Homo sapiens: one gene and its partners. The protein of the gene in region 6 purifies or fractionates together with the protein of the main gene of each other region. This does not show direct contact. Each region holds a gene or a part of one and is shown on either strand. Other genes may lie near its edges.

Evidence for each region.
Region 1: the proteins of NASP (region 6) and VCP fractionate together in Homo sapiens (co-fractionation; 2 studies listed by BioGRID). This does not show direct contact.
Region 2: the proteins of NASP (region 6) and RBBP4 purify together in Homo sapiens (co-immunoprecipitation; 5 studies listed by BioGRID and IntAct, with this or other methods). This does not show direct contact.
Region 3: the proteins of NASP (region 6) and DCTN2 fractionate together in Homo sapiens (co-fractionation; one large-scale study listed by BioGRID). This does not show direct contact.
Region 4: the proteins of NASP (region 6) and OTUB1 purify together in Homo sapiens (co-immunoprecipitation; one large-scale study listed by IntAct). This does not show direct contact.
Region 5: the proteins of NASP (region 6) and SMC4 fractionate together in Homo sapiens (co-fractionation; one large-scale study listed by BioGRID). This does not show direct contact.
Region 7: the proteins of NASP (region 6) and TSR1 fractionate together in Homo sapiens (co-fractionation; one large-scale study listed by BioGRID). This does not show direct contact.

The regions. Positions count from the first base shown.
Region 1 is NC_000009.12:35,062,231-35,066,660, reverse strand, and holds part of VCP (transitional endoplasmic reticulum ATPase), read left to right. Parts: intron 1-1,279; coding exon 1,280-1,410; intron 1,411-2,375; coding exon 2,376-2,507; intron 2,508-3,580; coding exon 3,581-3,683; intron 3,684-4,310; coding exon 4,311-4,430. UniProt on the Homo sapiens protein: Necessary for the fragmentation of Golgi stacks during mitosis and for their reassembly after mitosis. Involved in the formation of the transitional endoplasmic reticulum (tER).
Region 2 is NC_000001.11:32,683,932-32,687,113, forward strand, and holds the end of RBBP4 (histone-binding protein RBBP4), read left to right. Parts: coding exon of another isoform or gene 1-158; 3' UTR 159-326; coding exon of another isoform or gene 327-451; 3' UTR 452-2,280; downstream 2,281-3,182. Other genes in the region: SYNC (syncoilin), read right to left, coding at 1-158, 327-451. UniProt on the Homo sapiens protein: Core histone-binding subunit that may target chromatin assembly factors, chromatin remodeling factors and histone deacetylases to their histone substrates in a manner that is regulated by nucleosomal DNA.
Region 3 is NC_000012.12:57,540,329-57,544,758, reverse strand, and holds part of DCTN2 (dynactin subunit 2), read left to right. Parts: intron 1-1,768; exon of another isoform or gene 1,769-1,783; coding exon of another isoform or gene 1,784-1,813; intron 1,814-3,386; coding exon of another isoform or gene 3,387-3,395; intron 3,396-4,430. UniProt on the Homo sapiens protein: Part of the dynactin complex that activates the molecular motor dynein for ultra-processive transport along microtubules. In the dynactin soulder domain, binds the ACTR1A filament and acts as a molecular ruler to determine the length.
Region 4 is NC_000011.10:63,992,349-63,996,778, forward strand, and holds part of OTUB1 (ubiquitin thioesterase OTUB1), read left to right. Parts: intron 1-4,181; coding exon 4,182-4,300; exon of another isoform or gene 4,301-4,430. UniProt on the Homo sapiens protein: Hydrolase that can specifically remove 'Lys-48'-linked conjugated ubiquitin from proteins and plays an important regulatory role at the level of protein turnover by preventing degradation.
Region 5 is NC_000003.12:160,398,236-160,402,449, forward strand, and holds the start of SMC4 (structural maintenance of chromosomes protein 4), read left to right. Parts: upstream 1-1,414; 5' UTR 1,415-1,514; intron 1,515-2,323; exon of another isoform or gene 2,324-2,586; 5' UTR 2,587-2,591; coding exon 2,592-2,730; intron 2,731-3,679; coding exon 3,680-3,858; intron 3,859-4,214. UniProt on the Homo sapiens protein: Central component of the condensin complex, a complex required for conversion of interphase chromatin into mitotic-like condense chromosomes.
Region 6 is NC_000001.11:45,610,945-45,615,374, forward strand, and holds part of NASP (nuclear autoantigenic sperm protein), read left to right. Parts: intron 1-2,224; coding exon 2,225-2,304; intron 2,305-3,151; coding exon 3,152-3,237; intron 3,238-3,348; coding exon 3,349-3,422; intron 3,423-4,068; coding exon 4,069-4,257; intron 4,258-4,360; coding exon 4,361-4,430. UniProt on the Homo sapiens protein: Component of the histone chaperone network. Binds and stabilizes histone H3-H4 not bound to chromatin to maintain a soluble reservoir and modulate degradation by chaperone-mediated autophagy.
Region 7 is NC_000017.11:2,323,277-2,326,487, forward strand, and holds part of TSR1 (pre-rRNA-processing protein TSR1 homolog), read right to left. Parts: intron 2,145-3,211; coding exon 2,028-2,144; intron 1,989-2,027; exon of another isoform or gene 1,554-1,988; coding exon 1,413-1,553; exon of another isoform or gene 1,303-1,412; coding exon 1,228-1,302; exon of another isoform or gene 1,099-1,227; coding exon 920-1,098; 3' UTR 598-919; coding exon of another isoform or gene 379-597; 3' UTR 70-378; coding exon of another isoform or gene 1-69. Other genes in the region: SRR (serine racemase), read left to right, coding at 1-69, 379-597. UniProt on the Homo sapiens protein: Required during maturation of the 40S ribosomal subunit in the nucleolus.

The DNA of each region.
Region 1 (4,430 bases), on a different chromosome or scaffold from region 6:
TGAGCTTAAGGATTATTGACTGTAGGGAATAAACCTTGGAACATCTTTATCTCATTTTCTTTTTCTTTTTTTTTTTTTAAATCTTTTATGCTTTTCCCCTGTATTTATTTATTCATTTTTTAAGAGATGGGGTCAGCTGGGCACCGTGGCTCACACCTATAATCCCAGCAATTTGGGAGGCTGAGGCGGGTGGATCACTTGAGGCCAGGAGTTTGAGACCAGCCTGGCCAACATGGCGAAACCCCATCGTGGGCACCTGTAATCCCAGCTACCTGGGAGGCTGAGGCATGAGAATTGCTTGAACCCAAGAGGTGGAGGTTGCAGTGAGCCAAGATTGGGCCACAGTACTGCAGCCTGGGTGACAGAGCAAGACTCTGTCTCAAAAAAAAAAAAAAAGAGACAGGGTCTCACTATGATGCCCAGGCTGGTCTCAAACTGCTGGGCTCAAGTGATCCATCTGCCATGGCCTCCCAAAGTGCTGGGATTACAGGCATGAGCCATCAAGCCTAGTCTCATTTTCTTTTCTTTTTTTTTTGAGACAGAGTGTCGCGCTGTCCCCCAGGCTGGAGCGCAGTGGTGCAATCTCGGCTCACTGCAACCTCCGCCTCCTGGGTTCAAGCAATTCTCCTGCCTCAGCCTCCCAAGTAGCTGGGATTACAGGCGTCTGCCACCACGCCCGGCTAATTTTTGTGTTTTTAGTAGAGACGGGGTTTCACCATGTTGGTCAGGCTCGTCTCGAACTCTTGACCTCAGGTGAGCCACTGTGCCCGGCCGCTAGACTCATTTTCATATATTTGTATACACACACATGCAAACCCTGCACACATATTCATATGTCTTACCCTCTTTTTTTCCTCCATCCTTCCTTTGCTCCATCTCTCCCCTTCTCTGTTCCAGGAGAGTAAGCTATCTTTATGGATCTCTGAAGGAGAAAGTGGTCCATTTTGGCTGGGTCAGGGTCCAGAGTGCACAGTTCTACCATTGGTGGTTGTAGTGAAAACTTGGGCTACCTATATGGCAGAAGTCAGAACTTGATGGGCTTCTGACATGTCAGGTTTTGTTCACTGACCTCTTGTCAGAGGGACTCTTCACAGTTTACCTTTCTCATCTTGCCTGCTGCTTATTAAGACAGGTGGGGTGGAGTTGGGGAGAGGTAGGGCAATATCTAATGAAGGGCACTATCTAATGAGCTTGGCATTTTGACCCCAGGGTCTGATGAGTTCTCACTTTGTCTTGTAGTTGACACCTCTAACTGTGCTTGTACTGTTTGCTCTCGCAGGAGACATTTTTCTTGTCCGTGGTGGGATGCGTGCTGTGGAGTTCAAAGTGGTGGAAACAGATCCTAGCCCTTATTGCATTGTTGCTCCAGACACAGTGATCCACTGCGAAGGGGAGCCTATCAAACGAGAGGTGAGTTTTCTCCCTGATTCCAGTATCCGATTTTATGATTACTCAGTGTGGCATCATGTGGTAACTGTCAGGACTGGGTGCTCGGCCGGCTGCGGTGGCTGACACCTGTAATCCCAGTACTTTGGGAGACTGAGATGGGCAGATCACTTGAGGTCAGGTGTTCAAGACCAGCCTGGGCAACATGGTGAAATCCCATCTCTACTAAAAATACAAAAATTAGCCAGGCATGGTGGTACACATCTGTAATCCCAGCTACTCAGGAGGCTGAGGCAGGAGAATCGGTTGAACCCAGGAGTCGGAGGTTGCAGTGAGCTGAGATTGTGCCACTGCACTCCAGCCTGGGTGACAGAGTGAGACTCTGTCTCAAAAAAGAAAAAGACTGGGTGTTCTTTGGAGAACTAACCATCTTTCAGGGATGAGAAACCTGCCAGCTATTCATTTCTGGGCCTAATTGTTTCTTGGATTTACCTAATGCCAGGAATTTCAAAAAACTAGACTGAACCCAAAATATATAAGTGATTGAAATCATTTTTGAAGTAAAGCTGATGGTGGCTTCAGGCCTCTGCCCATTCCCAGGGTTTCCAGCTTCAGATTTTAGAGACCCCTTCTCAGTAAGACTACGAGTAATGTGAGAGGCAAGGACTGTGCTAGAAATCTTTGCCTTGGGATTTTTGTAGTTGTTCTTTGAGGCCGGATCCCTTTAGAGGAGAATCTTTTTTAAATTTAATTTAATTTTTAATGAGATGGAGTCTTGCTGTATTGCCCAGGAACTCCTGGACTCAAGCATTCCTCCCACCTCTGCCTCCCAAAGTGCTGGGATTACAGATGTGAGCCACCATGCCGGGTTGAGAATCTTCTTATACGGTAGGTTTTTGCACACTAGGTAGTGGAATGATTTAGAGAAACTCAGCTTTTGCTGATATAATATTCTTGCCTTCTCCTTTCTTTATCTCCTCCATATTCAGGATGAGGAAGAGTCCTTGAATGAAGTAGGGTATGATGACATTGGTGGCTGCAGGAAGCAGCTAGCTCAGATAAAGGAGATGGTGGAACTGCCCCTGAGACATCCTGCCCTCTTTAAGGCAATTGGTGTGAAGGTGAGCATCCTGGGCTCTGGAATCAAGTCTAAAGTGGTGCCAATGTCTAATCCTGTCCCAATGTCTAATCCTGGGACTGTTTTCATGCATGGCTTTCATTATTGCCTTGGATTAGAGGGGCAATAACGTATCCTTTAGTTTACCTAAGGCTCTAAATTCATTAGAGCTGATGGTCTAAAACCAGAGTAGGCTAATCAAATTGTCTGTTGTGTGCGTGTGCGCACAAAACACACACACATATATATATGGGTTTTTCTTTACAACTCTTAGAATATAAAAGCCATTCTTGTATCAATGGACCCTGTAAAAACAAATCTCACCATAGTTTGCCAGCCTGTCTAGAGCAATGTCACCCAGTAGAAGTAAGGAAGTTAAGGAAATTTTCAGAGTGTTAAAGGGTTCTGAGTCTAAAACATTTGAGAACTATTGGTCTAGAGTGTAGCTTCTCAATCTTTTCCTAGTGGGAAAGTGTTTCCATGGAACACACTGAAGATGAAGTTACTCATTTTCCTAGTGGGTGGCACACAAATAATTTCATTTTCTATGTGGACAGTTTACATGTTCTGCTTGTGGATGAGGCCATAGAAAGGGTAGTGTTGAAGAAGAAAAATGATGATTGTAAGGAACAGCATTCCAGTGTGATAAATTCTGGAGGGCATGATTACTGGAGTGAGTGATCCTCTGGCAATGAAGAAAATAGACCCTGCTCTCTTAAATGGCTTAGCTAGTCTTTGGCCCTTGGTCTGTCTAAAATTGAGCCCTTAGTGTAATGGCCTCTTGCCTTTCCCTAGTCATGTATCTTCAAACGCATTTGGACTACAGTTTCTCTGCCCTTAGTCTCCTATGCAAGTTGCAATCATAAATGTTGCCCACTTTCTAGCAGTATTTTCCCTGCTAGTAATAGAAATGAGTGTGGCCTAAAGTAATTGTCTTCTTAGCATTTACTGCGGAGGGCTTATTCTTAATATTGTCAGGGTTGAAGCCTGATTCTCACCCTCTCTGGAGCGCTAGTCAAGCCATTTTAGGGTTTGGGAGAAGGTGGGAACCTAATCACACTCTGCATTGGTCCACAGCCTCCTAGAGGAATCCTGCTTTACGGACCTCCTGGAACAGGAAAGACCCTGATTGCTCGAGCTGTAGCAAATGAGACTGGAGCCTTCTTCTTCTTGATCAATGGTGAGATATTTGGTTCATCTTATGTCTAGCTAGACCCAATTTTGAACTGGGCTTATGAGCTGGAGCACTTATGAACACATCCTTTTTGCACCCATGCCCTCCTTCATGTTTATAGCATATTTCTTATGCTGGGGTATGTTACAGACAGAAGAGCAATAAAGGGAAGATATTTTACATTGGTGCTCCCTGTCCTGCCCCCTTTGAGAAAGATTGTGGACAGACTGCAGAGCGGGAGCAAGCTAGAATGAGAAATCAAAGGGTGAATGGTTAGTGATTTGAGAGGGTTTGGGGCAAATGAACTTTGATCACTGGCTCTTGGAGAATGCTGTTTAGTGGTGTGCCATCTGGTGTGCCATCTCTCTTGCTCTAGCCAGAGGTCCTAGAGCATTTGCTGTCACCTTTACAGTTCAACTGTGAGAAGAGTATAGTGAGTCCCTGGGCTTCTCTCCAGCCTTGCCTGGTGGCTGTCCTGGGATAATGGCTGGTAGAGGATGTGAGAAGTAGGCAGAGGTTACCACCTTCTCACCCAGGACCTGTCTCTGGGCCAAACAAGCAAGATAACTGATTTTTGGGAGGAATTGGGAAAGACTATCATTTTGTTATTGTCTCCATTCTGTATCCTTTCAGGTCCTGAGATCATGAGCAAATTGGCTGGTGAGTCTGAGAGCAACCTTCGTAAAGCCTTTGAGGAGGCTGAGAAGAATGCTCCTGCCATCATCTTCATTGATGAGCTAGATGCCATCGCTC
Region 2 (3,182 bases), about 13 Mb from region 6:
CTGTTTTTAAGGCATTAATTAGTATTGTTAGGAAAGCAGTAACAATGCAAACACCACTCTTCTCTTCACAAAGATCACCTTGAGACTGTGTCTCCATTCCACCTGCCTGAGAAGTGGGAGCATCAGCCTGTTCCAGGCTCTTGGGTAGTAGCATAGCCCTTTAAAAAGAGAGAGCCATTTTCCATGTGTTTTTGGATAAGCACAATTTGAAAATCATTTCCCAAATCCTCTTTTTGTTTTTGATTCTAAGGTAAAATTTTCCCTAAGCCCTCCCACCATCCCCTCAGCCAGTATTAGATGAGATTTGTATAGCAGCAGAAACTGACTTATAAGTAGAGAGCTCTTCAGCAAGACTGAGCCTTAGCTGTTCCATCTCTTTGTTCTTCTGTTGCTGGAGTTGCACCCCATTTCTTAACTGCCTCTGGCGTTCTTCCATTTCCTCCAGCTGTTCCTGCATGAGATGGCCAAGAACATTTCTAATGAGCCAAACAATAAAAACTCACATTGTCCACTCTTACTTATAAAACACTTTTTTGTTCATTGTTTAATCTTGATAGCAGTATTGAGGCTGGTATTTATATGATAGGTTATGAAACAGGTTCAAAGAAGTTGTGTCTTGGAAAAAAAGTGACAATGCTTTTGAAAATGATGACGAAAAAGGCATCTTGTCTGTTAACCACAGCTTGCTTTAATAGAATCCTGGGAGGGTGATTGGGACTTTTTAGTATTACAACCTTAGTGTCATTGAGGAGGATTTTGGTCTAGTTAGTGGGCTGAGTTTCATATACCTCTCCCTCCATGTGCAGGTTTGTTAAGATAATTGGTAGTTTTTAATAATATAAAATACTTAAGTTGAAATACAAAAGTGTGGCAACAATTATTAAATATTGGCTAGAATTCTAGGAGAGTTACACAACTAGTGGAAGTCCATGTTTAGAAAATAAATGGCTTGTTTAAGGAAAAGTTTTTGTGTCCAAAGCTCCTTAAAGTCAGAGAGATTTCTACCTGGTACTTAACATCATATGGAAATTGATGCTTTAGTGAGGGTGTTGGCTATCCTATTGCTAATTTCCTGCATCCTTTTTTCTTCTTTATTTTTGTATAGAGACAGGGTCTCGCTATGTTGCCCAGGCTGGTCTTGTTCCTGGGCTCAAGCAGTCCTCCCGCCTCGGTCTCCCAAAGTGCTGGGATTACAGGTGTGAGCCACTGTGCCCAGCTTATCCTTTTTTCATTACACAAAAAGACTGAATTTGGTTAGTTCTAAGTTGGAAGATAAAGATGGTATGCACAGGAGGCCCTTGGGAGCCCTCAGATAACTTTCTCATTCTTCCAGAATCAGGCTGGGATGCATTCTGTAAATTTTCCCTGCCTAGGATGTATACCTGAGGAATAAGGTAAGGAAGATGTCAGCAAGTCAGTCTCTGGTTTACCTGCTAGCTGGCATGGATCCTTAAGGAAGCAGGAGGGAGTTGGGAAGAGAGGAAGGGGTGAAGTTGGTATCTTTTAAAGCGAGAGTGATTTTACCTCAGATTTTGAAGAATACTAAGGAATCCAGTTGTTGGGGTACATGCTATTATTAGAAGGATCTAGATAATTTGTCCTCTGAGTCATACTTGACATTGTACCTGTGGCACATCAATCCGCACTGTTTGATACTCTGGCTGAATCTCAGCTTTCACCAACATTGTCAAAGGACCTTTTTTAGTGCCCAGCCATGCCTAAGAGTGTGTCATCTGAAGAGGGAAGCATCTGCATACTGCTGTCCTGATTGCTCAGTCCTCACTACCTACCAGACCCGTTGGTAAGGTACAAAAGTACATGCTTGGAAAAGCAGTCTGCACCACCAGTGATAAGCTGTGACAGAGTGGAACAGCCTCAATGAAATGAAGGAAGGATTGCTACAGTGGCATTAAGGATGGTCTCTTAATCCTGTGTTAACCACTAGATTAACTTTACAATCAACTCAAAATCCTTCAAAGGCTTTCCACTTTCTTTAGTGGCATTCAGACCCCCTCTAGTTTGACCCCTACCTCCAACTTGAACCTCTGTTACTCTTCCGTATGAACATTTTCCTCTAGCCCTGGACTACTAGTACCGAAGTCACTAGTCACATAGGACTCATTTGAAATATGACTAGTCTCAATTGAGATGTAATGTAAGTGTAAAATACACAGCAGATTTCTAAGACAGCACACAAAATGTAAAATATGTCAAAAATATTTGATACTGATTACATGTTGAAATATATGTGTTGGGTTAAATAAAATGCATTAAAGTTAATTTCATCTGTTTCTTTTTTTAATAGAGCTACCAGAACATTTAAAATGACATCTGTGGCTTGCTTGCAGTGATAGACAGCACTACTCTAGCCTAACAACTCAGATCTGTGTGCCTGTGTTCCTGCCACTTTTTTCACCTAGACAGCCAGTCCCTTGTTTTCTGCTGCCTTCTACCTAGATACTAATTTCTCAAGGGCCAGGACATGTCTGTCTACAGTTGCCCCAGCACTTGCATTGACAGCATTGCCAGTTTTAATTTTCTACATAGGACAAAGACAAAGAAAGGATACATTCCCCAACTCAGGAAAAGGGGAACTGCTACAGCAATAGTAGTATAAAGTAACAGGTGCTGTGGAAACAGGAGGGTTATCTGTCGCACACTAAGGATATCGGGAAACTTCAGGAAGAAGGGAAATGGGTTTAAAGGATGAGTAAAGAGTTAAAGGGGAAGAAGAGGTCTAATCAATGTATAGTCATGGAATTGTGGGAAAGTGGCTTACTAGTTCATTCCTTGCAACCCTATGGATATGGGAGTATTATTAATCTCATGTTTCATGTGAGGGTGCTGAGCCACAGAGCTTAAGTAATTTGTCCAAAGTTTCCAACTTAGTGATAGAGCCAGGATTTGCCATTGGCTTAGAGCTCATACTCAAGGTAACAGGCTTTTTAGTGGTTCTCAAACTTTTCTGTGCAACCCCAAAAGCTGGCCAAATTGGAGTGCCCTTGGTACTTTTCCGTTAGAGAATAACTCCGCTTTTAACTGCTTTATATATTGCATTCTATGTAAAATTATCTGGGGGAGAAGGTCCACAGCTTTAGAGAAAACTTTAGTTTTGGAAACCACTAGTCTAAAGAATACATAAAACTGGCCAGGCACAGTGGCTCATGCCTGTAATCTCAGCA
Region 3 (4,430 bases), on a different chromosome or scaffold from region 6:
TATGGGTTCCAAACCCATGGATTCAACCAATCACAAATGGAAAATATTTTTTAAAAATAAAAAATAGGCCCAGTGTGGTGATTCATGCCTGTAATCCCAGCACTTTGGGAGGCTGAGGCAGGTGGATCATTTGAGGCCAGGAGTTTGAGACCCCGTCTCTACTAAAAAATATAAAAATTAGCAAGGCGTGGTGGCGAGCGCTTATAGTCCCAGCTACTGTGGAGGCTGAGGCAGGAGAATTGCTTGAACCTGGGAGGTGGAGGTTGCAGTGAGCCGAGATTGCGCCACTGCACCCCAGCCTGGGTGACAGAGCAAGACTCCATCTCAAAAAAAAAAAAACCAGTACAACAATAAAAAAAAAAACAAAATTTAAAAATACAATATAACAACTATTTACATAGCATTTACATTGTACTAGGTATTTTAAGTAATCTAGAGATGATTCAAAGTATACAGGAGGGTGTAGGTAGGTTATATGCAGTTACTATGCCAATTTATATAGAAGATGGGAACATATGCAGATTTTGGTATCAAGGGAGGTCCTGGAACCAGTCTCCCACAGTTGCCAAGAGACAGCTGTATGCTGAGAACTTTACTGCACTACCACAGTTCAGACTGTTCAACTTAGGCCTAGGCTTCTGCCCTTCATGGTGAGATAATGAATAGAACTCAGTCCTTTTGTCGCTGTGATACAAACAGGTAGTTTCACAGTAATCCTCTTTCTAAACAAAAAAATACATATTGTCATTCCCTTTTGAAGATACTGGGATATCTCTTAATAAAAAGGAGATGACACCCATTCCAGGTGTGGAAGAACCTGACTGTGCAGCTCTGATTGGCTGTTTCTCCCCCAGAGCCTGAACAGCCTATTTTAGTAGCATCTAGTGGGGTGGCTGATGAGGAGAGGATACTGTGAGTGTTCATTTCCTGTGGCATGTTGCCCAGGATGCCAGTATAGAAGTGCATATGAGCTGAATGGCAAATACAAGAAGAGCTGAATTGTTTCTGTCACCTAAGGCTCAGCTAAGTGACTCTCTGTCACTAGGGAGGAATGGGGTGGGCAGACCTTCAGCCACTTCAGGGGCCCGAAGAGCCAAGATGTTTCCTGATGTCAGCTAATGTCTCTGGCCCCCGCATGTCCCTATGGGGCTTGCAGCTTTTGGGAAGTCAGCTGAGTAATGGCTCTGCCACTGCTTTTAATACTGACGTAAATATGCAATTTGAGGAGCAGTGAATTGTATGCTTAGATAATCTAGAAATGTCATGTCCGTGAGGCCTGGGATCTCACCAGCAGCCTGTCTGTTTCCTGCCTACCTGCCCAAGACCTAGTACAAGTGACAGTGCACATGACCTGTCTTGTGGCTGAACCATGAGATTTTCAGTCACCTTCTTTTTTTTTCTTTTTTTTTTGAGACGGAGTCTCACTCTGTCGCCCAGGCTGGAGTGCAGTGGCGTGATCTTGGCTCACTGCGAGCTCCACCTCCCGGGTTCACGCCATTCTCCTGCCTTAGCCTCCCGAGTAGCTGAGACTGTAGGCGCCCACCACCACACCCGGCTAATTTTCTTGTATTTTTAGTAGAGACGGGGTTTCATGTGTTAGCCAGGATGGTCTCGATCTCCTGACCTCGTGATCCGCCTGTCTTGGCCTCCCAAAGTGCTGGGATTACAGACGTGAGCCACCATGCCCAGCCTCAGTCACCTTCTTAACCCCTGACAACAGCATTCTCCGCCTTAATCTTCAGTTTATTTTCAACTTTAATTTTATCAGTTTTTAAAGTAGGTAATGTATGCACAGGGAACAGAGGATTCAAGGGTAAGTAGTGAAAAATCTGCCTCCCACCTCTGCCTACCACCACTCAGTTCTCTTCCCTAGAGACAACCAATATGGATAGACTCTTGTGGAACCTTTCAGGGGGTCTCCAGATTTCTTTTTGGTTTTTGAGACAGAGTCTCACTCTTTCCCCCAGGCTGGAGTGCAGTGGCACAATCTTGTCTCACTGCAACCTTTGCCTCCCCGGTTCAAGCGATTCTCCTGCCTCAGCCTCCCAAGTAGCTGGAATTACAGGCATGTGCCACCACACCTGGCTAATTTTCTGTATTTTTAGTAGAGATGGGGTTTCACCATGTTGGCCAGGTTGGTCTCGAACTCCTGGCCTCAAGTGATCCATCCATCTTGGCCTCCCAAAGTGCTGGGATTACAGGCGTGAGCTACCATGCCAGCCGGGTCTCCAGATTTCTGTCTAAAGGAATAGTCAAGTTGTGTTGACCCTCACTGCTCCATAACTTTCTTCCTGTGATTCCTCCACTGTGGAAGAAATTGGGCTACTAAAGGAAAAATGTCCTCAAACATCCCTTAAAGATTTAAATTGCTAATTTAACTTAAACATAAACATTTTCCGATTCCCATAGTGGGGAGGATGGGGGAGGAAAGCATAAAAGATTTAAATTTTGCTACAGATGATCGTGAATTTTTTTTTTTTTCAAGATGGAGTTTCACTCTTTTTGCCCAGGCTGGAGTGCAATGGCGTGATCTCAGCTCACTGTAACCTCCACCTCCCGAGTTCAAGAGATTCTCCTGCCTCAGCCTCCTGAGTAGCTGGAATTACAGGTGTCCATCACCACACCCGGCTAATTTTTTGTATTTCTAGTAGAGACAGGGTTTCACCATGTTGGCTAGGCTGGTCTCAAACCCCTGACCTCAGGTGATCCACTCACCTAGGCCTCCCAGAGTGCTGGGATTACAAGCATGAGCCACTGTGCCTGGCCAATCCTGATTTTTCTACTATCCCTTTAAAACAATTTTAGCAGGAAGTAAAATCTTCTAAAACAGGAATGGACCAGGAAAGTGCACGGGCTGTAGCCCTTTCCTCCTCAATCTGGGAAGATCTCTTTGCACTTCAGACACTCCCAGGTTAATTGGGGCAATAGGCTTGCTTGGAGATTTTTCTTAAAATGTTTGGAAAACTAATTCCCAAATAGAATTCCACCCACACACACACCCCGACCCTAACCCCTGGGCCCACAGCCTGCCTTGGGTCAGTGAGGCTTTCTGCTCATGGCTTTTGAACTGCTGGAATAAGGGAAGTAAATTAAGAAAAACCTCATTAGAAACAATTTAGCTTCTCTCTTTATGGCATAACTACCCGCAGTAAAAGGGGAAAAAATGACCTAGCCATAGTTTGATGGGGCCCTGGCAGAGGCTTCATTTCTCCAAAAGGTAGATATTACTGGACACTCCTGAGATGAGAAACAGTACTTCCTTACAGTTTAGAAGATCCTGGAGTATGCTTGATTGTGTTCATTGACTGTTGGCGCACTTGAACTTACCTGAGTTTTTCCTAATGCTTCCCCCATCCTCCCTCCTCACCACCTTGCCTGGACACTAGTTTGCACAAGTAAGACCATTCAATGCTTCTTCTCTGCATGTTTTTTTCATCTGCCATCTCGCATGCAATGCTCTGCCACTGTGCTATTGTTGTAGCTAATCGTTTTAAATTCCAGTGAGTCCCTGGCTGGGTCACTGAGGGGCCTGCTGGCCTTATGTTTAAAGATCATTAATCAAGGGTTAGAAACAGCTATGATCCATGAATCATTGTCTCTTCCCCTTGTGAGGTCTGCAGAGTAAAACTGTCCAGTGGAGGATGGGATAGAAGCATGGAGGCTTTAAATGTTTTTGAACATGAGGCATTTAGGGGCTGGAGTTAGAAGGCAGTTTCCTTTCTCCTCCTCAGACTAAGATCAAATGAAGATTTTTTTATGGAATGACTTTTAGCTATTCTAGACAAGGATAGAAAACAAAAGGGATGACAGCCACAGTCCTCAGTTCTTGGCTGTATGTGGATTATCTCTGGGAAAAACTCATTTTAATATTCCCCTATGCTAGGTCTTTAGAGAAATGTAAATGGGATGAGAAGGAGGTTTATATGCAATTGTAAGATAACTTGGATTATTTGTGCTTTTGTGAGTCTTTCTGTTTCTGCACCCCTCCTTTTGAAATGGATGGATGGTCAGCAATATATTGATCCATCCCGGACAGTTTTACTCTACAGCTCTGTCCATCTTCCTTGTCATCATGGTTTTGAAGTACCCTGGCTGCAGTGTTGGCGTACAGCCTGAATAGGCTCAGAGAGTAACAGTGGCCACTTTCCCTGTCTGATTTAGAACCTCAGATCTTGCCCTCTGAGGCACAGCCACTTAGCCAAACAGCCCTGGGGGGTCTGGGAGTCCCTTAGTGAAAGAGACTGGGAGTCACGTACTAGGTAAGCTGGCACCCGGGGCCAGGGCACTTGAAATCTTCCAATCAAGGTGACTAGTACTACTCCAGGTTATGCAGGAATCATGCCTAAAATCTCATCAACCTTCAACCCACCCATAGGACAGACCTGGAGGTGGTATATACTATCTGCAAACTAATATACCACTTTTCCTTT
Region 4 (4,430 bases), on a different chromosome or scaffold from region 6:
GCAGTGCCCACCCAGGCCCGAGGCGAGAGGGCACCTGGATGGTTTGAGGCCAGCATGGAGGCCAGTGTGGCTGGTGGAGAATGAGGGGTTGGGGCTGGGGAACTGAGCGGGGCGGGGCGGGGTGGGGTGTTGTGGCGAGAGAAAGGACTCTGAGGGAGATGGAGATAGGGTGCATCTGGCAGGTGACTCTGGTCACTTTTCTTTTTTTTTGAGAGAGAGTGTTGCCCTGTCACCCAGGCTGGAGTGCACTGGAGTGCAATGGCACCATCTCAGCTCACTGCAACCTCCACCTCCCGGGTTCAAGCAATTCTCCTGCCTCAGCCTCCTGAGTAGCTGGGATTACAGATGCTCGCCACCATGCCTGGCTAATTTTTGTATTTTTAGTAGAGGTGGGGTTTCACCATATTGGCTAGGCTGGTCTTGAACTCCTGACCTCAAATGATCCACCCACTTTGGCCTCCCAAAGTGCTGGGATTACAGATGCCCACCACCATGCCTGGCTAATTTTTGTATTTTTAGTAGAGGCGGGGTTTCACCATATTGGCTAGGCTGGTCTTGAACTCCTGACCTCAAATGATCCACCCACTTTGGCCTCCCAAAGTGCTGGGATTACAGGCCTGGGCCATCACGCCAAGCCGACCCTGGCCATTCTCTTGCTGGGGTGAGAATAAACTCCAGAGGGTGAAGGGGAGGCAGGGACACTGCCAGGAGACTTGTGCAGTAAAATCTGCTGGAGGCGGGCAGCGGGTGGTAGAGGTGAGGAGTAAGAAGCAGTTGGATACCAGACATATTGAAGGGATGGATATGGTGATGGAGTCGGCAGCGACTGGAAGGCTTTGGGTGCTGTGGGTGACTGAGGTGGGGCAGCCTCGGGGAGGAGCAGTTGTTCGGAGGTTGATCTCAGCTGCACTCAGTGGAAATGCCTGTTGGACAGTTCAGAGGAGGTGTGGTGAGGCTGGTAGATAGGAGGATCGTAATTGGAGTTGAGAGTTGAGATTCACACTTGGGGCTATTTAAATCCTTGAGACTTTGGCTAGGGGCAATGGCTCATGCCTGTAATCCTAGCACTTTGGGAGGCCAAGGTGGGTGGATCACTTGAGGGCAGGAGTTCAAAACCAGCCTGGCCAACATGGTGAAACCCCATCTCTACTAAAAATACAAAAAAATTAGCCGGGCATAGTGGCGCGCGCCTGTAGTCCCAGCTACTCAGGAGGCTGAGACAGGAGAATTGCTTGAACCCGGAAGGCGGAGGTTGCAGTGAACCGAGATCGCGCTACTGCACTCCAGCCTGGACGACAGAGCGAGACTGTCTCAAAAAAAAAAAAAAAAAATTGCTTGAGACTGATGTCGTCAAGAGAGCAAGTATAATTTACATTTTTGTAGAGATGAGGTCTTGTTGTGTTGCCCAGGCTAGCCTTCAACTTGATCCTCCCCCCTTGGCCTCCCAAAACACTGGGATTACAGGTGTGAGCCACTGTACCTGGCCATGAGAGTGAGTGTAGTTTCAAAGAGGAAGCTGGCCGGGTGCGGCACTTTGGGAGGCCGTGGCAGGCAGATCACATGAGCCCAGGAGTTCGAGACCAGCCTGGGCAATATGGTGAAATCCCGTCTCTACAAAAAATACAACAATTAAATGGGTGTGGCGGTGTGCACCTGTAGTTCCAGCTACTCTGAAATCTGAGGTGGGAGAATTGCTTGAGCCTGGTAGGTTGATGCTGCAGTGAGCCGTGATCTTGCCACTGCACTCCAGCCCAGGTGACATAGAAAGCCCTGTCTCAGAAAAGAAAAAAAAAAGAAAAGTGGAAGCTGTCCCAGGCCTGAGCAGGGCGGGGTAGGCACATGGGAGACAGCCCTCATGCCCGTGGTCACATGGCAGGCACAGTGGCTAAGTGTGCAGTGACTGTTTTCCTTTTTCCTTTTTTGAAACGGAGTCTCCCTTTGTTGCCCAGGCTGGAGTGCAGTGGAGCGATCTCGGCTCACTGCAATCTCCACCTCCTGGGTTCAAGTGATTCTCTTGCCTCAGCCTCCAGAGTAGCTGGAACTACAGGTGTGTGCCACCACGCCCAGTTAATTTTTGTATTTTTAGTAGAGACGGGGTTTCACCATGTTGGCCAGGATGGTCTTGATCTCTTGACCTCGATATCTGCCTGCCTCAGCCTCCCAAAGTGCTGGGATTATAGGCGTGAGCCACCACACCCAGCCTCAGTGACTGTTTTCTTGCAGGTGACACACCATGTCTCGAAGGGTGCTGTATGGTTTGGTGGCATCCCTGACCCTCAGAGCTTAGAGAGATGAGGAGTGGCCTTGGAGGCAGGAGGAAGACAAGGAGAGGGTGGGGGCGCCAGCCCAGGGAAGGAGGCATCTAGGCAGGGCCACAGCCAGTGGCCTCAGTTCTGCTAAGGGGCCAGTGGGGGTGGGGCGCTGGGTTTGCCCCCTCTGATTGAGGGCGTTCAGCTGACCTTGGCTAGAGCAAAAGCCTCCCGAGGGAGAAAAGAGGTGGAGGCAGCACGGACAGCTTCATGAGGAGTTTTGCTGTAAAGAAAGCAGAGAAATTGAAGGGTAGCCAGACAGAAACGTAAAGTCCAGGATTCCCTTCCTTTTAAAGAAGTAGCTGAATGTGTATATGCTGTTGGGTCTAAACCAGTAGGGTGGGAAAAATTGATGATGGGGGTACTTCCTAGGATGATGTCTTTTTTTTTTGAGATAGGGTCTCACGCACTCTGTCACCCACGCTAGAGTGTAGTGGTGCCATCACAGCTCACTGTAGCCTCGACCTCCTGGGCCCACACAGTCCTCCGACCTCAGCCTCTCGAGTGGCTGGGACCACAGGATGCACCACCATGTGCAGCTCACTTGCTTATTTTTCAAGATGGAGTTTTGCTCTGTTGCCCAGGCTGGAGTGCGATGGCGCAATCTCGGCTCACTGCAACCTCTGCTTCCCGGGTTCAAGCGATTCTCCTGCTTCAGCCTCCCGAGTAGCTGGGATTACAGGCATGCACCACCATGCCGAGCTAATTTTATATTTTCAGTAGAGATGGAGTTTCGCCATGTTGGTCATGCTGGTCTCGAACTCCCGACCTCAGGTGATCCAACCACCTCAGCCTCCCAAAGTGCTGCGATTACAAGCGTGAGCCATCGCGCCCAGCCACTTATTTTTTTTAGAGAGACGGGGGTCTCACTGTGTTGCCCAGGCTGGTCTCGAACTCCTAGGCTTAAGCGTCCTCCCACCTTGGCCTCCCAAAATGTTGGGATTATAGGTGTGAGCCATGGCGCCCAGCTTGGAATGATGTGCTTGAGCCTGAGGGTGGGGGTGGGCTAGTGTGGAGTGGAGAGGCAGCTTAGGTGGCAGCTGGAACAGATCCTCTGAGGATTGTGGGAGGAGGCCAAAGGCAGATGTGCTGGTGGGGGCTGAGGAAAAAAGACAAGGTCATCAGCTGGGGGTAGGAGCAAGATGGGTAGGGGAGAGGGGAGGGTGCCCAGGCCAGGGGAGTGAAGTGTGCTTGCCAGGTGAAGTGTGCGTGGTGGGTGGGCACCTGTAATCCCAGCTACTTGGGAGGCTGAGGCAGGGGAATCGTTTGAACCCGGGAGGTGTAGGTTGCAGTGAGCCGAGATCGCGCCACTGCACTCCAGCCTGGGCAACAAGAGCAAAACTCTGTCTCAAAAAAACAAGTAGAGGAGGGAGGCTGTTTCTAGCCCCAGGAGGGCTGCGGGCAAGGCTTAGAGGTGGGGGAACTCTTCTCAGTGTGGCGGGAGCGGGGCTGAGCTGGGCTGTGCAGAGGGCCCCAGCCACCTGGTTGAGGCGTGGAGGCCAGCACTCCACCCTGGCCCTGACTTGCTTGCCCTGAAGTTCTCTTGGGCTGAAAGACTGGAGGAAACGCATTGCTCAAGGACATTCACTCACCTGTTGTTGTACAGTCCTGTAGGCCCCGCAGAACTTTAGTGACCCATGCAACTAGTTTGTCCTTAAGTGCCCAGCTTCCTGCCGTCTTTTGGGAGGACTCTGGGCAGTGGGCCGCTCCCATTGCCACATTCAGCAGCCTGTTTCAGGGACCCAGGGTGGCAGGTGGCTGCTGGGAGCTCAGTTGCCACCTTTGGAGTGTGACCTTTGCTGGGGGACATTTCCTTGGCCAGCCCCCGTTCTGGCCTGATGTTAACCTGTCGGGGTGGGGCTGTCTCCGCAGGACCTCCACAAAAAGTACTCGTACATCCGCAAGACCAGGCCTGACGGCAACTGTTTCTATCGGGCTTTCGGATTCTCCCACTTGGAGGCACTGCTGGATGACAGCAAGGAGTTGCAGCGGTGAGAAGGGTGGGCACTGGGCACCGAGGCAGGTGGGTGTCTACCTCCTCCCCGGGCGAGTAGGATGTGTCTCGAGTAGGGTGTCTCCCTCCTTCCCGGGCGATGGGCTGGACTCTGGCCTTGCCAGGCG
Region 5 (4,214 bases), on a different chromosome or scaffold from region 6:
TTGGGAGGGGGGTGGCTCTCCACACCTTTTTGAGAATCACTGAACCTGACTTCATGCTCTTCCAGGGAAGAACCATAATGTATTTAGAGTGATCATGTAAATTCATTCAAAAGGGAGATTTAATGGTGATTTAACATGCCAGACCCTAAGTAAGCAAAAGTTAAAGAAAAAAAAAGGAGGCTAGTAGTTCTCAATGTCAAGTACTTAAGAGTTGTTGCATGAATACTGGAGATAGTCAAATGAGCCAGTGGCTCTTTAACAATATAGGGAATTAGGAGCAAGTATGAGATTCTGATTATAAAGTTGTAGGAAAACTAACTTCCCAGAAAAATGCACATAGAATTATGTATACAATGTCAGGCGAGTTATGAACTCTGAAGCCCAATCACCTACCACCAGATCCACAGACCTCAGGTTAAAAACCCACTAAAACTAAGTTCTCGGGGAACAGGAATCGCCAAACTTGCTTACTAATTCTAATTATGCCTTACCCAGGGCAATGTATACAAACACTACTTAGGGAATATTTGCTGATCGATAATTTCCTCATAAAAATAACCATAACACTGGCGAGTCGTTTTTTCCACTAAAGAGCCTTTTAGTCAAATTATTTTAAAAGTCCTAAACCTTTCACTAGTAACACCAATGATCTCGAAAATCATTATTGCGCTATTCACATGTCGACTAAGCTATCACGAATCCAGGTCTTCCAGTTGTCTCTCTACTCCCTTAAAATTTAGGGCTTCCTCCTTCGCATCCCAAAAGCTACACCCGGAGCCCCGCTGCCGCCAGGGAGACAGAAAATGATGCTCCACGAAGCACACAGCTTCAAAACAGGAAAGATGGGATCCAGTGATGGCTACAACTTCCAAACCCTTTTCTCACCAGGTCCAGAGGTGAAGGGATTTACCTCAAGTTCCAGGAAAGCGGTGGCGATTGCTCTCAAATACCTGGTACCTCCCCGTCACCATAGTGACTTCTAAGAGTTACGCTCCCTTCCTCTTCCCGCGATACTTCTACGCGGCACGTCATCCGAGTGGGCCCGAGACCCCGCCTCTCGGCGAGCCCGCCCTCTTCTGAAGAGGCGTTTCTGGACCACTGAGCCCCGCCTCCCACTGTGAGCGGAACCCTACCGTTTTTAAAAAAATCTTTTTCAAAACTTGCCAGGTTGTCTTTCCAAATATTTTTAATAATAGTGCTGCTGCTGTAGACCACAGAGAAAAGAATCCCTCGCTCTTCCTTTTCACTTAGTAGAAACTTCTACCGCGTAGGTCCCGCCAGGAGTTCGCGCATGCGCAGGAGCGACAATAAGATGGCGGTGATAATCGCCGCACTTTTTTTCAAATTAGTGGATCCCAGAAATCATTGCGCGCATTTGTAACGAATTTCCGTTCGAGTTTGTATTTTAGGCGCCATTTTCGAGTGAAGGACCCGGAGCCGAAACACCGGTAGGAGCGGGGAGGTGGGTACTACACAACCGTCTCCAGCCTTGGTCTGAGTGGACTGTCCTGCAGGTAAAGTACTTCTCTTCCTGGTCAGGTTGTCACGCTCTTACTTCCTGCCTTGTCCGCGAGCGCCTGGAAAATAGAGGCCTTGAGCCCGAGCGGCGAAGTCCGGGCTTGAAGCTGCCGCTGGGAGATTTCTCTTGCTGTCACCCCTCCCCCCTCGGCCGCTCCCCGGCGGCCCGGGCTCCCGCGCGCAGCTCCCGGGCGCCACTTTTCCAAGCTACTCAAATGTCTCGGGGAGGCCCTGAGCCTCGCAGATCTTTTCTTTAAAAAATCCTAGTCTCTATCTGGAAAAGGGCGTCTCCCCCTACCCCTCTTCCTTCTGCCAACGGACTAGTCACCGGGTCTCAGCCTTCGCTGGTGACCTTTCATGGTTTACTGTCCAACGGGACTCCGCCTGGGGAGCTGGAGAGACAAACTCTTGCCACTCCAAAATTAGCAAGCGCTGCCAGCGTCCGACTTGAAGTTGCTAGTGGTTAGTCCCAGCCTTCGCCCTTCGCGGTCCGACCGCTGAGAGGAGGGAGACTTCGTTATGCCCCGGGCCGTCAACGGCGCCAGGAGCTAAAGGGCGGGCAGACGAAAGCGGGCGGCGAGTCGCCAGTTAGTCTTCACCGCTCTGGAGAGAGTTGCTAGCCACGGGATCCTGACCCGGACACGAACTCGTTTCTCCACGTCGGTGCGCGCTTGCATCCCTGGCCCCGAAAGCGTGGGAATGTCCGGAAATGCTGGCGTATGGGAGTTCCTTAATTAGAAATGCGTTAGCGAATATTATACGCTTATACTATGGGCGGACGGGTGGAGAGCCTTAAAAACAACAACAACAAACTAAGCAGTTGCTCAATCGTTGATTGATCCTCAGGCACGTCTAGATTTTCCCACTTACATAGGTCTTGTTAAGAAACCAGTCCTGCCTTCTTGCCACTCGTGTCTTTCGATGGCTCCCTTCCCGAAGTCCCGCTGCCTCTAAGCGGAGTGTTAAGCGGGGCTCTCGGAAGCCGGTGGACCGAGATTTCCCCGGGTGGGGCGGGCGCGGTGTAGCGGCCCGCGGGCTGACTTGCTCCCGGCTGTCCCCCGGCCCCAGCGACCATGCCCCGTAAAGGCACCCAGCCCTCCACTGCCCGGCGCAGAGAGGAAGGGCCGCCGCCGCCGTCCCCTGACGGCGCCAGCAGCGACGCGGAGCCTGAGCCGCCGTCCGGCCGCACGGAGAGCCCAGCCACCGCCGCAGGTGAGTGACCCGCCGCGACTCGGCGGGAACGCGCGCTGTGGGACTGGCAGGCAAACGCGCCCAGCCCGAGGCTGGCTGGGGTTGTTGAGCGCGGAGTTGACATCTGAAGGTCCGGTGTCGGTCCGGTAGAGGCTCAGGAAAGCCATTTGGCAACTTTGAGATAGGATTCCCGTGCAATTTTGGTGTAACGGCGCTGGAAGGGATGGGGGCGAGCAAACGGGTTCAGTTGTGAATTTTTGTTTGTGACCTGTGGAATGGTACAGGTCACAAACAAAAATTCAATATCTTTATTGTATTCCCGCTAAAATCGAGACGGTCAATCAAGAGAGCAAGTGGACTTTTTTCCCAGAGACAATCAATATGACTATGTGAGCATGATGAAAAGTTTTTTGACCCTAACCTCACCTCCGTGGTGTTAGATTGCCGTTAAAGAGAAGACGATAATTTATTTGAAGCCACTGTAGCTTTTGTGAGTCCAGGAGTTGGGTGACATTATTAAACCCTCGTGGCAGTGTCGCTGAAGTTCATGAGTTTCCAAAATGAAGGTTCCAGGTGCTCAGCGGTACGGAGAATTGCATCTAGAGCCTTAGGATTTAACCTCCTGTTTAGGATAGGCAGCAGGAAATAGCTTGTTACGGTTTTCCCAGATTTGCTCTATGATGTAGTGTTTTGACTCTTAAGAGGTATAGGTGTATAGAATTTTGTGACCGGTGGCATTTCTTTCAAGAATTTCTTTTTTAGTAAAACCAAGCTGAAGGTTTAGTCACCCCCGTGAGTTTAAGATAATAACATATTTAAGTGGAAAATATAGACTCCTAAGTTTCATAAATAACATCCCTCCATCCCCTACTTTAAAGATGGGCAGTCATTAGTTCTCCGAACTAATTGCACTAATGTAGGCTTTTCCCCCGCCGTTTGCCTTCGTTTTCCTTTCCTTTCACTGACTTAGAGACTGCAAGTGAGGAACTTGATAATAGAAGTTTAGAAGAGATTTTGAACAGCATTCCTCCTCCCCCGCCTCCAGCAATGACCAATGAAGCTGGAGCTCCTCGGCTTATGATAACTCATATTGTAAACCAGAACTTCAAATCCTATGCTGGGGAGAAAATTCTGGGACCTTTCCATAAGGTATTTGTATGGAAATAACTATTTTATAACTTTTTAAATAACTATTGTAAGGTAATACGTTTTTACAAGATGTTTCAGTTTTGTAACTATCCTAAAATTCATTCACTCCCTATTTATCCTGATAGTCTTTCTGTCTCTCTCTCTCACACACACACACACACGTTTCATATGATTTTAACACTGAAATTATCTTTTGTTTATCTGGTTATCTTTGGTACCTCTAGTTACAAAGTTTTCCATTGAATGGAGTCGGTGTGTGTTTCTGTTTGAAAGAGTATTTTCCCTTGGATAATTTTTTTTTCTTAAAGCCTTCTATGGAACCCTTAGATAATTTAACTATAAAATGAGTTTTCTAA
Region 6 (4,430 bases):
TGACCTCAGGTGATCCACTAGCCTCAGCCTCCCAGAGTGCTGGGATTACAGGTGTGAACCATTGCACCTGGCCCACCATACACCATTATCTTCTCATATCCACATTTCCAAGTGGGTCCGGGCTTAGTTCCCCAAAGTTAGACCAGATGGATGGTCTTATTAACTCTGCCCATCCTCTAGCAGAATATGCAGAAAAGCTGAAGTAGATTTACATATGTAGGATAATTGATAGAAAAGTAAATACTTCATCTTCCCAATTTGTAGGAAAAATTAAATTGATATTGTTATCTTCTATTCTTACCTGGTATCTCTTCCTACTCATACCAGAATACTAGAAGACAACCTCTAATTTGAAACAAAATATCTTAATTACTTGGAAGTTTTACATCAAATTTTTAAATTAAAATTCCTATAATTGCTTCAGAAGAATATTACTGGTTCCTCTTGAGGAATCTGTACCATCTTCAAGGAATGGTGGGGAGCTAGGTTAAGGAGAAAGCCATCGCCATTACTTTTTTTTTTTTTTTTTTTTTTTTTTTTGAGACAGAGTCTTGCTCTGTCACCCAGGCTGGAATGCAGTGGCGTGATCTAGGCTCACTGCAACCTCCGCCTCCTAGGTTCAAGTGATTGTTCTGCCTCCGCCTCCCGAGTAGCTGGGACTACAGGCATGTGCCACCACGCCTGGCTAATTTTTTGTATTTTTAGTAGAGACGGGGTTTCACCGTGTTAGCCAGGATGGTCCCAATCTCCTGACCTGGTGATCTGCCCACCTTGGCCTCCCAAAGTGCTAGGATTACAGGTGTGAGCCACCGCGCCTGGCAGCCATTGCCATTACTTTAAAACCTTTCCCAACTTGTGCCCAGGTATCAATGGCAATGCCCTGATGTCCTCAGTAAATTTGTTAAAGTATCTTTTTTTTTTTTTTTTTTTTTTGAGACGGAGTCTTGCTCTGTCACCCAGGCTGGAGTGCAGTGGTGCGATAATCCGCTCACTGCAAGCTCCACCTCCTGGGTTCACGCCATGCTCCTGCCTCAGCCTCCCAAGTAGCTGGGACTACATGCGCCTGCCACCACACCTGGCTAATTTTTTTGTTTTTTGGTTTTTTTTTTTAGTAGAGACGGGGTTTCACCATGTTCGCCAGGATGGTCTCAATCTCCTGACCTCGTGATCCGCCCGCCTCGGCCTCCCAAAGAGCTGGGATTACAGGCGTGAGTCACCGCGCCTGACCCTGTTAAAGTATTTTCTAAGCTTCTTTGAAAACGGAATCTCTTTGTGGTTGCTGCTGATAAAACTCCTTTGACCTGACGATTGCTCTAAGTCCTAATTGCCATATTTATATTCCCATAGTAAGAGTGTTTGGAGATAGTGTTTGAGCTTTTTTGCTGGTGTTAAAAATGCATAATGAAAGATGGCAGAGAGAGGCATATTATATCCAATTCATGAGTTGTTTGTGTTAACAGAAAGCTTATTTTAATCACTTAACATTGTTGATTTGTCTAATCACAGTAGCGCTATTGATTAGGAGCCTGACCTTTAGATGGTTGACTTGTGAGTGTATTCAATATGGTGAAATATGGTGTTGATATATGGCTGCAGATTTTAGAGGTGTCATTAGCAAAGGTATAGGAGTAAAATAGGGGTTATAGTATTCCTTACTCAAATTCTGTATGTGCTAGAGCTGGCTGGAGTCTGTGGCATGCTCATTGGTGTAAGTCGGTAAGGACTATGCTTTTTGCTCCACATCTCTGTTGTGGGAAAGCTAGTCTCTTGAGCATTCTTGATCAGAATGGACTGGAATAATTTAACTTTCGTACTTTCCCAGGCTATTAGTATTATCTAATGAGTGGCTTAAAGATACCAGAAACACTGACTGAGGTCTCCACCTGCTTCTGGCTGAATGAATGGGAGCTTCTAGCCATTGAATAAGAGGCAGTAGCCAATGTTTCTTATTCTGAATGGTCCAGGTTGACTTTTATAAGAGAAACACTCAGCCTTTTAATTGCTGAAGGTCTGACCCATAGACTAAGATTGCACATTCTTAGTCTAGGTTACACTTGAACTAGACTGCACCCACTGACGATATATTCAGTTCAGGTGTTAACTCACTTGGATTAGCATCTGGCCTGTCCTATCTGAATATAGGTTGAGACGTGTATTGGAATCTCTGACTAGTCAGAATACGTTCTTAGTTATATTCTCAATACTGAGGAATTTTTACTTGTAGAAACTGAAGGCTCAGAAGAGGATGATAAAGAAAATGATAAGACCGAAGAAATGCCAAATGATTCAGTCCTTGAAAACAAGGTATGTTGTTAGCCACTCAGTACTGTTGTCAGCCTTTTTCTGTTTTTGGGAGACTGGAGCTCACTCTTGTTGCCTAGGCTGGATTGCAGTGGGGTGATCATGATCATGGCTCACTGCAGCCTAGACCCGGGCTTAAGTGATCGCCTCACCTCAGCCTCTCAAGTAGCTGGGACTACAGGCTTGTGCCAACATGCCCAGCTAGTTTGCAGGACTGTAGCTTACCTAGTTTAGGCACGATTATTATTTTTTTAAGAGATAGAATCTCTGTCTCTGCCCAGGCCGGAGTGCACTGGCATGATCAGGGCTCACTGTATCTTTAGCCTCCTGGGTTCAAGGAATCCTTCTGCCTCATCTTCTCAGATAGCTAGGTCTCCAGATGTCTGCCACCATGTCTGGCTAATTTGTTCTCTAATTTTATTTTGTTTAGACGGCTGTCTTGCTGTGCTGCCCAGGCTGGTCTCAAACCTGGCTTCAAGTTATTCTCCTGCCTCAGCCTCCCAAAGTGTTGGGATTATAGGCATAACCCACCATGCCCAGCCCTAGGCATGATTATTATAGATAACTGTCTCTTGATTATGGATTAGGGACCCTTTATTCATGCCTAGGATGGGTGGATATATTTGATCCTGGGGTTCTTGTGTGTTAGTATGTGAGCCAACATTTCACTGTTAAAATATCAGTGACATGGTCATGACTTAAGACAGTATGTGGACCCATTCTCTAGATTTTAGGGAGAAAGTCCAAATTTTGAATCGTATATCAACTTTTTTTAAGCTACGCTAAGTTATACATTTAGATTTGTATTTGAAAAAGATGCCTATCTTTTTATTATTTGGTTATACTTTAGTCTCTTCAAGAAAATGAGGAGGAGGAGATTGGGAACCTAGAGCTTGCCTGGGATATGCTGGATTTAGCAAAGATCATTTTTAAAAGGTAAAACTCTTGGTGCTTCTAGGCTTGGGTTGGGAGTTTGGTGGTTAAATAGAAACCAGTTAGGGTTAGACAGGTACTGTTAAGGTTTTTGATCAATTTTCCTTCTTTTAGGCAAGAAACAAAAGAAGCACAGCTTTATGCTGCCCAGGCACATCTTAAACTCGGAGAAGTTAGTGTTGAATCTGGTAATGCATTTTCCATTTTATACTCTCCTACTCTCTTCAGCTCCCTCGTTCTTCCTCTAATAGATTCTCTGGAACCGAACTTGATCTTTAAAAAGATAGGTCTGTGTTCCCTGTAGACCCTGGAACAATGAACAGTCTCTTCCAAGTGGCACTCAGTCTTCCAGTAGGTTTGTTTTGTTTTGTTTTTTTTGAGATGGGGTCTTGCTGTGTCGCCTAGGCTGGAGTGCAATGGCGTAATCTCGGCTCACTGCAACCTCCGCCACCCGGGTTCAAGCGATTCTCCTGCCTCAGGCTCTCGAGTAGCTGGGATTACAGGCACCCACCACCACGCCCGGTTAATTTTTGTATTTTTAGTAGAGACGGGGTTTCACCATATTGGCCAGGCTGGTCTTGAACTCCTGACCTTGTGATCTGCCCGCCTCAGCCTCCCAAAGTGCTGGGATTACAGGTGTGAGCCACCACGCCCAGCCTCAGTAGGTTTTTAAAAGTCATTTTGACTTTCTTTATAGCCAAGGGTCCTGGAAATAACTATAAACAAAAATGGAATGTTAAATATGGGTGCATTCCCATAGGATGGGTCTGAATTCTGGAAGTATTTTATGTTGAATGCTGTCCATTTACTTGCTCTTCTTTTTCTCTTTGTTAGAAAACTATGTGCAAGCTGTGGAGGAGTTCCAGTCCTGCCTTAACCTGCAGGAACAGTACCTGGAAGCCCACGACCGTCTCCTTGCAGAGACCCACTACCAGCTGGGCTTGGCTTATGGGTACAACTCTCAGTATGATGAGGCAGTGGCACAGTTCAGCAAATCTATTGAAGTCATTGAGAACAGAATGGGTGAGTGAAGACGAGCTGCTTCATGGTGATGTTGGATCCAGCAATTAACAAGGAAGAAAACAGTTCTTTTTTGAGCCATTACTAATCACTTTATTCTTTTTAGCTGTACTAAACGAGCAGGTGAAGGAGGCTGAAGGATCGTCTGCTGAATACAAGAAAGAAATTGAGGAACT
Region 7 (3,211 bases), on a different chromosome or scaffold from region 6:
TTGAACACCTGGCCTATTATCAGGGACCTTGTGGATGATATCTTCACTGTCACAGAGGATGAAATTAAGGTGAGGCTCCAGCAAGAAAAGAAATAGCAAAGCATGGTGTAACTTCTTAGGCAGAAGAAACTTCCCTTAGGAGTAGCAAGTGACCCACGGGAACCTGACTAGGTAACTTCATGACATGGGAGGGTACCCTAGATGTATTAATGACAACCCTCTTGACAGAAGCAGAGTCAGAATTAAAGAAAAGCTTTGGGAAGCGTGTGTACACAGTGATAAGAAAATTCAAACTGGACACGTATTCTCATCTGAACTTTATAGGTAAACCAACTAGACTCCCCTTTCACTAATTCCTACTCCCTTCCATATCAACAGTGTGCAACCCAGCTGGTGTGGGAGAGGATGAAACTACTCATTGAACCTACAGCTGGTGTTGGAGTGGCTGCTGTGCTGTCTCAACATTTTCAAACTGTTTCCCCAGAAGTAAAGAACATTTGTATTGTGCTCAGTGGTGGAAATGTAGACTTAACCTCCTCCATAACTTGGGTGAAGCAGGCTGAAAGGCCAGCTTCTTATCAGTCTGTTTCTGTTTAATTTACAGAAAAGGAAATGGTGGGAATTCAGTGTCTTTAGATACTGAAGACATTTTGTTTCCTAGTATTGTCAACTCTTAGTTATCAGATTCTTAATGGAGAGTGGCTATTTCATTAAGATTTAATAGTTTTTTTTGGACTAAGTAGTGGAAAAACTTTTATACTTAACTGAGACATTTTGTCAAGGCTAAAAAAAAGTCTTGCAAAATGGGGCAGTGGACTGACAGGCTGACATAGAAAATAAACTTTGCCCAATCACAACTTGTGCCTCCCATCCCTGGAGTACTGACTGGCACCGGTAAGACAGAATCTCTTTGAATCCATTACTCCATGCCCCCTTGAGGCACTGTTGAAGAAATCTCACTTTTCAGCCAGGGTACTGGTTCTGGTACATATGGATCATAAGTCCATTTGGGGAAGACTCGTTTATACAGGTTCATCAGTACTGTGTCTTGAGATTTTAGCTTCCCATCAAAGCTGCATTTCATGTGGCCATGGGTACCTAGAAAGACATCAGAACAAGTCGGTCAAATTAAAAGTAGAAAATTTTAAAGCAATGACTTCCAACCCAACAGTCATTTAGCAACACTGCAGAAATGCAGACATGGTCTCAAATCCCGTGTTTCCTTACCTAAAGGTTCCTTGATATGTCCTCTCCGGCCCCACTTCGTTCTCAGTTCCACTGGTTTAAACCACAGCACATCCTCTTAGAATCAAACACATTAAAGACCAAGATGAAACATTTACCCACAAAATGTAAACCCAACCTTTATACCACAAAGGCAATCAGATCCCATCCTCCTCCTTCATACCCACCTCTGTTGAAGAACATGTAACGTACTACTGCCATCTTAGTAAAAATTTTGAAAGGATGACCACTCAGAACAACTCTCTTGATGACCATTCTGTCTGGATCTACTGACATAAGATGGCCTGTAGCAATGAGGCTGTGCATTCCTAAAGGACAAAAGCAAAGAAGCTATTTAGGAATTTACAGGCCAAAGTCTTCATTTATTGCCCAGTCCATTTAAAGACCCATGCAAGAGCCTGGTTTGTCATCCCTGCCCTAGCCCAATCTGAGGCTAAGATTGGTAAACTGTAAGCCCACACTTAACCTTGTCAATAGGTTCTTGAAAACTTGTACTTCAAGAGAAATGATGTATAACAAAACCATACTTTTTCTCATCAGTTGTTACAAGGAAAGGATGTTGAACAAAAGGCAGTTATTTGAGGACTGGCTATACACTGTTTCACGTAAAAGTTGGAGTTTTCATTGTTCTATTAACAATGTTAAATGAAGACTTACTGTATTTTGAAAACCATCATTACCTTCTCCATACCATTTGGCTCCCAAATTTAAATAAACAAGAGAAAACGGTGTTCATCTATTAAGGACCTGCAGGGTCTGTTCATCTCTGTGGCTCAACTTACCATTGCTTTTTTGCTTGAAAAGCAGCACAGATGCAGGAGGAAAAGTGATTGGCGCATAGACTGTCGCCACCAGGGCCATGTCAGCAGTCAGGAATCTCTGCAATTTATGTTTGTCCGCTGCCATAAGGGTTAAAAAATGAAAAGCAAAACCATTTTGAGAAACCAGAGGTGATAGAGGCCTGTGAAAAGCTGTATTAGTGCAACTCTTAAACCTATGGCAGCTTCTACTTCTCTAAACCACCAGTTCTCAAAAATTTTCGCTGCCTCAATGCACCTAAAAGATACGATCTAGTCCTATCAGTAACTTTTTTTTTTTCTTTTTTTTTGAGTTTGAGTATCGTTCCTGTCACCCAGGCTGGAATGCAATGGTGTGATCTCAGCTGACTGCAACCTCTGCCTCCCGGGTTCAAGCAGTTCTCCTGCCTCAGCCTCCTGAGTAGCTGGGATTACAGGCACATGCCACCACGCCCGGCTAATTTTTGTATTTTTAGTAGAGACCGGGTTTCACCATGTTGGCCAGGCTGGTCTCGAACTCCTCACCTTGTGATCCACCCACCTCAATCTCCCAAAGTGCTGGGATTACAGGCGTGAGCCACCGCGCCAGGCTGTATCAGTAACTTTTTATTTATTTATTTATTTTGAGATGGTGTCTCGCTCTTGTTGCCCAGGCTGGAGTACAATGGTGCCATCTCTGCTCACTGCAACCTCCACCTCCCAGGTTCAAGTGATTCTTCTGCCTCAGGCTCCCGAATAGCTGGAATTGCAGGTGCCTGATCAGTAACTTTTTTATCTGGAGTCAGAATCTTGGAGCCTAGACTGTATTTGATGTTCTACCTTCAAGGTAGCCCTCACCTCCTTTTTAAAATACTAAACTTAAAGGAAAATAAAATATTTTAAGGCAAAGAAAAATTAATCTCACTTAGAGATTGTGATTCTCACAATTGGTGAGAATAAAAATTATCCAAAACACCATTAATACTGCTTTCTTCATATTCCTCCTGCCACTGCTGAGAGTGAGTGAACTAGGACGATGTTCAGAAGCCCCCAAGTTAGTGGGCAACATATCTTCCTGCTCCTACTGTGTAGGAGACAATCATTTCTGCTGCAAGTCCCGTCCAGTAGTCTCTCAGTATCTCAGGACCCCTACCTCTGCTTTACCCAACTATGAGCCATACCCAGCCTCC